2 linked regions of the Homo sapiens genome follow. The protein of the gene in region 1 purifies or fractionates together with the protein of each later gene. This does not show direct contact. Each region holds a gene or a part of one and is shown on either strand. Other genes may lie near its edges.

The links. The genes of interacting proteins can lie anywhere in the genome.
Region 2: the proteins of TRIM22 (region 1) and DTL purify together in Homo sapiens (affinity purification with western blotting; one study listed by BioGRID). This does not show direct contact.

The regions. Positions count from the first base shown.
Region 1 is NC_000011.10:5,707,943-5,712,194, forward strand, and holds the end of TRIM22 (E3 ubiquitin-protein ligase TRIM22), read left to right. Parts: intron 1-230; coding exon 231-331; intron 332-634; coding exon 635-661; intron 662-1,110; coding exon 1,111-1,706; 3' UTR 1,707-2,921; downstream 2,922-4,252. UniProt on the Homo sapiens protein: Interferon-induced E3 ubiquitin ligase that plays important roles in innate and adaptive immunity.
Region 2 is NC_000001.11:212,094,748-212,098,247, forward strand, and holds part of DTL (denticleless protein homolog), read left to right. Parts: intron 1-3,500. UniProt on the Homo sapiens protein: Substrate-specific adapter of a DCX (DDB1-CUL4-X-box) E3 ubiquitin-protein ligase complex required for cell cycle control, DNA damage response and translesion DNA synthesis.

The DNA.
Region 1 (4,252 bases):
AGACCTTCCCAAGATTACACAGAGGGGAAGACCTTCCCAAGATTACACACAGACAGGTAGACATGAGCACATTTCTCTGGACTCCAGTGTCAGGCATCTCCCCTCTACTGTCCTCAGGGAAGAGGGTCCAAGTGCGTCAGCAAGTATGGTGAAAGGTGAAAGAGACAGTGATCTTGGATGGAGAGAAATAGGGCAAAGGTGTAAAGGTTATCAATTTTTGTTATCACTAGGAGTGAAAGCTGGACATTGAAGAAGCCAAAATCTGTTTCCAAGAAACTAAAGAGTGTATTCCGAGTACCAGATCTGAGTGGGATGCTGCAAGTTCTTAAAGGTAAGGGGATTCAGGGGAAGGCTGTGAATGTGGATTTCTTAGTATCAGGGCTCAATAGGGAAGCGGGAGGTTTTTTTAGGTTAGGATATAGGAGAGGAGGTGGGCCAGAGAAGGAGGAAAATCCTGTGCTGTAGATGTGGTCCTGTCTTAGGGGGAATGACCAGGTGTCTGATTCATCCTCTCATTCACCAGTGCAAAGAATCCCAGTATTCCCCCTTTCCTTTCCCTACTCTGGAGAAGAGACAGGTGTCAGTACTTACTTATTTGCTTCTAACAACATCACTGAAACTTTTGTCGTTTCAGAGCTGACAGATGTCCAGTACTACTGGGGTAAGATGATATGGGGTTTTCAAATCACTTCCTTTCAGAATTGTGGTTACTATTAGATCTCATAATCTGAGTCTCATGTGTTCCTCCCCAAACATGCTTAAACCATGTAGTTCTTTTTTTTTTTTTTTTTAAGATAGATTTTTGCTATTGTTGCCCAGGCTGGAGTGCAATGGCGCGGTCTCGGCTCACTGCAACCTCTGCCTCCTGGGTTCAAGCGATTCTGCTGCCTCAGCCTCCCAAGTAGCTGGGATTACAGGCGTGTGCCACCACGCTTGGCTAATTTTTATAGTCTTACACCCTGTATTTCTTAAGGGTCCTACTAACCTCTGACTATCAACACAAGTTCCGTTTGATATCGACACAAGTTTCATTTTCAATATGTCTCTTCTCAATGCTGTAAGACACACCTATCCCATATCCTTCACTTGACTTGGTAATTTTTTCTACAGTGGACGTGATGCTGAATCCAGGCAGTGCCACTTCGAATGTTGCTATTTCTGTGGATCAGAGACAAGTGAAAACTGTACGCACCTGCACATTTAAGAATTCAAATCCATGTGATTTTTCTGCTTTTGGTGTCTTCGGCTGCCAATATTTCTCTTCGGGGAAATATTACTGGGAAGTAGATGTGTCTGGAAAGATTGCCTGGATCCTGGGCGTACACAGTAAAATAAGTAGTCTGAATAAAAGGAAGAGCTCTGGGTTTGCTTTTGATCCAAGTGTAAATTATTCAAAAGTTTACTCCAGATATAGACCTCAATATGGCTACTGGGTTATAGGATTACAGAATACATGTGAATATAATGCTTTTGAGGACTCCTCCTCTTCTGATCCCAAGGTTTTGACTCTCTTTATGGCTGTGCCTCCCTGTCGTATTGGGGTTTTCCTAGACTATGAGGCAGGCATTGTCTCATTTTTCAATGTCACAAACCACGGAGCACTCATCTACAAGTTCTCTGGATGTCGCTTTTCTCGACCTGCTTATCCGTATTTCAATCCTTGGAACTGCCTAGTCCCCATGACTGTGTGCCCACCGAGCTCCTGAGTGTTCTCATTCCTTTACCCACTTCTGCATAGTAGCCCTTGTGCTGAGACTCAGATTCTGCACCTGAGTTCATCTCTACTGAGACCATCTCTTCCTTTCTTTCCCCTTCTTTTACTTAGAATGTCTTTGTATTCATTTGCTAGGGCTTCCATAGCAAAGCATCATAGATTGCTGATTTAAACTGTAATTGTATTGCCGTACTGTGGGCTGGAAATCCCAAATCTAGATTCCAGCAGAGTTGGTTCTTTCTGAGGTCTGCAAGGAAGGGCTCTGTTCCATGCCTCTCTCCTTGGCTTGTAGAAGGCATCTTGTCCCTATGACTCTTCACATTGTCTTTATGTACATCTCTGTGCCCAAGTTTTCCCTTTTTATTAAGACACCAGTCATACTGGCTCAGGGCCCACCGCTAATGCCTTAATGAAATCATTTTAACATTATATTCTCTACAAAGACCTTATTTCCAAATAAGATAATATTTGGAGGTATTGGGAATAAAAACTCCAACATATAAATTTGAGGAAGGCACGATTTCACTCATAACAATCTTACCCTTTCTTGCAAGAGATGCTTGTACATTATTTTCCTAATACCTTGGTTTCACTAGTAGTAAACATTATTATTTTTTTTATATTTGCAAAGGAAACATATCTAATCCTTCCTATAGAAAGAACAGTATTGCTGTAATTCCTTTTCTTTTCTTCCTCATTTCCTCTGCCCCTTAAAAGATTGAAGAAAGAGAAACTTGTCAACTCATATCCACGTTATCTAGCAAAGTACATAAGAATCTATCACTAAGTAATGTATCCTTCAGAATGTGTTGGTTTACCAGTGACACCCCATATTCATCACAAAATTAAAGCAAGAAGTCCATAGTAATTTATTTGCTAATAGTGGATTTTTAATGCTCAGAGTTTCTGAGGTCAAATTTTATCTTTTCACTTACAAGCTCTATGATCTTAAATAATTTACTTAATGTATTTTGGTGTATTTTCCTCAAATTAATATTGGTGTTCAAGACTATATCTAATTCCTCTGATCACTTTGAGAAACAAACTTTTATTAAATGTAAGGCACTTTTCTATGAATTTTAAATATAAAAATAAATATTGTTCTGATTATTACTGAAAAGATGTCAGCCATTTCAATGTCTTGGGAAACAATTTTTTGTTTTTGTTCTGTTTTCTTTTTGCTTCAATAAAACAATAGCTGGCTCTACTGAAGTCTCATTCTTCAGTTTCCAAAATCTTGCTGCAGATAATATGAGTTTCCATATGTCCAGTAAAGAAGGTCATGTCTAGGCTCAGCTGTCCTTGATAAGAGACAGCCTTATGCTGTTCAGATCTGTTTCTCGTAATGAAACACTTGTGTGTACCATTGCATTTACCATCCTAGGTACTTTTCTTTTTTTTTTTTTTTAAGTCTTTTTTCAAACACAGGATGAGTAGTAGAACTACCTAGGATAGCAAAGACACAAAACATTCTTGAAGAAATATATTGTATTAGTCGGGGTTCTCCAGAGAAACAGAACAATAAGAGATATGTATTTATTATGAGGAATTGGCTTACTTGATTATGGAGGCTAAGACTTCCCATTATCTGCCATTTGGAAACCAGAGACCCAAAAGCTGGTGATATAAGTCAGTGTGTCTCTGAAGCCCTAAGAACCAGGGAGCTGATGGTATAAATGCCAGTACAAAGGCAGAAAAAGATGAGGTGACATGTCTCAGCTCAAGTACTGCGGCAGGAAAAGAAGCAAATATCTTCTTCCTCAACCCTTTCTCCTACTCAGATCCTTTATGGATTAGATGATGTCCAGCAACTTGGGGGAGGGCAAGCTTTGGAGAGGTAGCCATTACTGAGTCCAGCTATTCAGGTGCTAATCTTTTTCAGAAACACCCTTACAAATACAACCAGAAACACCCTTACAAATACAACCAGAAATACCCTTACAAATACCACCAGAAATAATGTTTAATCCGGGCAATCTATGACCAGTCAAATTAGCATGTAAAATTAACCATCATGTATACATTATAAATTAGGGCAGGTTATGCCATTGTACAGAATTCACATCAAGATTTGTTGGACTTTGAAGAAAGGAATAGTGTGAAAGTGCCTGGCTTGAGATTGATATAGACATGTATACACATTCATTCATATATCTATACATATAGGTATATATACATATAATAATATGTATAAATATATTATAGATACACACATGAACATTATCCAAGATAATCTGTACAAATATCATAAAAAGGAGATTTTTTTTTTTTTTTCTGAGACGGAATTTTGCTGTTGTTGCCCAGGCTGGAGTGCAATGGGACGATCTCGGCTCACTGCAATGGCACAATCTCTGCTCACTGCAACCTCTGCCTCCTGGGTTCAAGCAATTCTCCTGCCTCAGCCTCCCGAGTAGCTGGGATTACAGGCACGTGCCACCATGCCCGGCTAATTTTTTTTGTATTTTTGGTAGAGATGGGGCTTCGCCATGTTGGCCAGGCTGATCTCGAACTCCTGACCTCAGGTGATCTGCCTGTCTT
Region 2 (3,500 bases), on another chromosome or scaffold:
TTCCATTTGTTTGTGTCATCTGATTTCTTTTAGCAGTGTTTTGTAGTTTTCCTTGTAGAGGTCTTTTACTTCCTTAGTTAGGTATATTCCTAGGTTTTGCAGCTATTGTAAAAGGGGTTGAGTTGTTGATTTGATTTGCAGCTTGTTTGCTGTTGCTGTATAGCAGTACTACTGATTTATGTACATTGATTTTGTATCCTGAAACCTAACAGAATTCATTTATCAGATCTAGGAGCTTTTTGGATGAGTTTTTAGGGTTTTCTAGGTATACAATCATATCATTTACTAACAGTGACAGGTTGACTTCCTCTTTACCAATTTGGATGCCTTTTAATTTCTCTTTTCTGACTGACTGTGGCTGGCTAGGGCTTCCACTACTATGTTGAATAGAAGTGGTGAAAGTGGGCATCCTTGTCTTTTTCCAGTTCTCATGGGGAATGCTTTCAACTTTTCCCCGTTCAGTATAACGTTGGCTGTGGGTTTGTCATGGATGGCTTTTATTACCTTCAAGTATGTTCCTTCTATGCTGATTTTGCTGAGTGTTTTCATCATAAAGGGATGCTGGATTTTGTCAGACGTTTTTTCTGCTTCTATTGAAGTGATCATGTGTTTTCGTTTGTTTTTCTCTTAGAGTTTCGCTCTTGTTGCCCAGGCTGGGGTGCAGTGGTACCATCTCAGCTCACTGCAACCTCCACCACCCAGGTTCAAGGGATTCTCCTGCCTCAGCCTCCCAAGTAGCTGAGATACCACATCTGGCTAATTTTTGTATTTTTAGATGGGGTTTCACCATGTTGGCCAGGCTGGTCTCAAACTCCTGACCTCAAGTGATCTGCCCTCCTCGGCCTCCCAAAGTGCTGGGATTACAGGCATGAGCCACCGCACCCGGCCTGATTTTTGTTTTTAATTCTGTTTATATGGTGTATCACATGTATTGACTTGTGTATATTAAACTTTCCCTGCATCCCTGGTTTGAAATCCATTTGATCATGGTAGATTATCTTTTTGATATACTGTTGGATTTGGTTAGCTAGTATTTTGTTGAGGATTTTTGCATCTATGTTCATCAGGGATATTGGTCTGTAGTTTTCTTTTTTGTCATGTCCTTTCCTGGTTTTGGTATTAGAGTGATACTGGCTTCATAGGATGATTTAGGGAGTATTCCCTCTTTCTCTTTTGGAATGGTTTCAGTAAGATTGGTACCAGTTCTTCTTTGAATGTCTGATAGAATTCAGCAGTGAATCCATCTGGTCCTGGACTTTTTCTTCTTGGCAATTTTTTTATTACCATTTCAATCTAAGTGCTTGTTATTGGTCTGTTCAGAGTTCTTATTTCTTCCTGGTTTAATCTAGGAGGTTGTATATTTCCAGGAATTTATCCATCTCCTCTAGGTTTTCTAGTTTGTGAGCACAAATGTGTTCATAGTAGCCTTGAATGATCTTTTGTATTTCTGTGGTATTCGTTGTTAATATTTCCTGTTTCATTTCTAATTGAACTTATTTGGATCTTCTCTCTTCTTTTCTTGGTTAATCTCACTAATGGGCTATCAATTTTGTTTATCTTTTCAAAGAACCAGCTTTTTGTTTCATTTATCTTTTGTATTTTGTTGTTGTTGTTTCATTTTTATTAAGTTCTACTCTGGTCTTTGTTATATCTTTCCTCCTCCTGGGTTTGGGTTTGGTTTGTTCTTATTTCTCTAGTTCTTGAGGTGTGACCTTAGATTGTCAATTTGTGCTCTTTCAGACTTTTTGATGTAGGCACTTAATGCTGTGAACTTTCCTCTTAGCACTGCTTTTGCTGTATCTTAGAGGTTTTGTTAGGTTGTGTCACTTTTTTCATTCAGTTCAAAGAATTTTTTTAATTTCCAGCTTGATTTTGATTTCATTATTGACCCAAAGATCATTCAGGAGCGGATTATTTAATGTTGCATGGTTCTAAGAATTCCCTTTGGAGTTGACTTCCAATTTTATTCCACTATGGTCTGAGAGAGTACTTGATATAATTTTGATTTTCTTAAATTTATTGAGACTTGTTTTGTGGCCTATCATATGGTCTCTATCTTGGAGAATGTTCCATGAATGTTCTGATGAATAGAATGTATATTCTGCAGTTGTTGGGTAGAATGTTCTGTAAATACCTGTTAAGTCCATTTGTTCTAGGGTATAAGTCCATTGTTTCTATGTTGACTTACTGTATTGAAGTCCCCCACTATGAGATGAGATTCTATTTTTGTGTATTTCAAGGTTTTGCTCTAAGATTTAGAACTCCTTTTAGCAGTTTTTGTAAACTATGCTGGCTTGGTAGTGGCAAATTCTCTCAGCGTTTGAAAAAGACTTTCATCTTTTCTTCATTTATGAAGCTTAGTTTCACTGGATACAAAATTCTTGGCTGATAATTATTTTGTCAGCTAATAATTATTTAATAAGGCTAAAGATAAGACCTTTATCCCCTCTAGCTTGTAGAGTATCTGCTGTTAATCTGATAGGTTTTTCCTTTACAGGTTACCTGATGCTTTTGCCTCCCAGCTCTTAAGATTTTTTCCTTCATCTTGACTTTAGATAGCCTGATGACTGTGTGTCTAGGTGATGATCTTTTTGTGATGAATTTCCTGGGTGTTCTTTGAGCTTCTTGTATTTGGATGTCTAGATCTCGAGCAAGGCCAGAGAAGTTTTTATTCTTTTGCCTTTGTCTTTGTTGAATTGGGTTAATTCAAGAGCCTTGTCTTTGAGCTCCAAAATTCTTTCTTCTACTTGTTTGGTTCTATTGTTAAAACTTTCCAGTGTATTTTGCATTTCTCTAAATGTGTCTTTCATTTCCAGAAGTCATGATTGTTTTTTATTTATGATATCTATTTCTCTGGAGATTTTTTTCGTCTACATCCTGTTTTGTTTTATTTTTAAATTTAAGTTGGTTTTCATCTTTCTCTGGTGCTTCCTTGAGTAGCTTAATAATTGACCTTCTAAATTCTTTTCTGGCAATTCAAAGATTTATTATTGGTTTGGATCCATTGCTGGTAAGCTAGTATAATCTTTTAGGGGTGGTTATAGAACCTTGTTTTGTCATATTACCTGAATTGTTTTTCTGGTTCCTTCTCGTTTGGGTGGACTATGTCAGAAGAAAGATCTGGGACTCAATGTGTGCTGTTTAAATTCTTTTGTCCCACAGAGTGATCCCTTGGTGTGGTGCTCTCCCCCTTCCCTAGGGGTGGGGCTTTCTGAGAGCTGGACTGCAGTGATTGTTATTGCTCTTCTGGGTCGAGCCACCCAGCAGAGCTACTGGGTTCTAGGCTGGTACTGGAGAGTGTCTGCTAAGAGTCCTGTGATGTGATCTGTCTTCAGGTCTGTATGCCATGGATACTAGCACCTGCTCTAATGGAGGTGGTAGGAAAGGAGTGAAGTGGACTGTGTGAGAGTACTTGGTTGTAGTTTTATTTAGTGTACTGGTTGTCTTGAATGCTAGTTATACTAGCACTGAAGTTATTACATGGACAGACTCAGGACCTC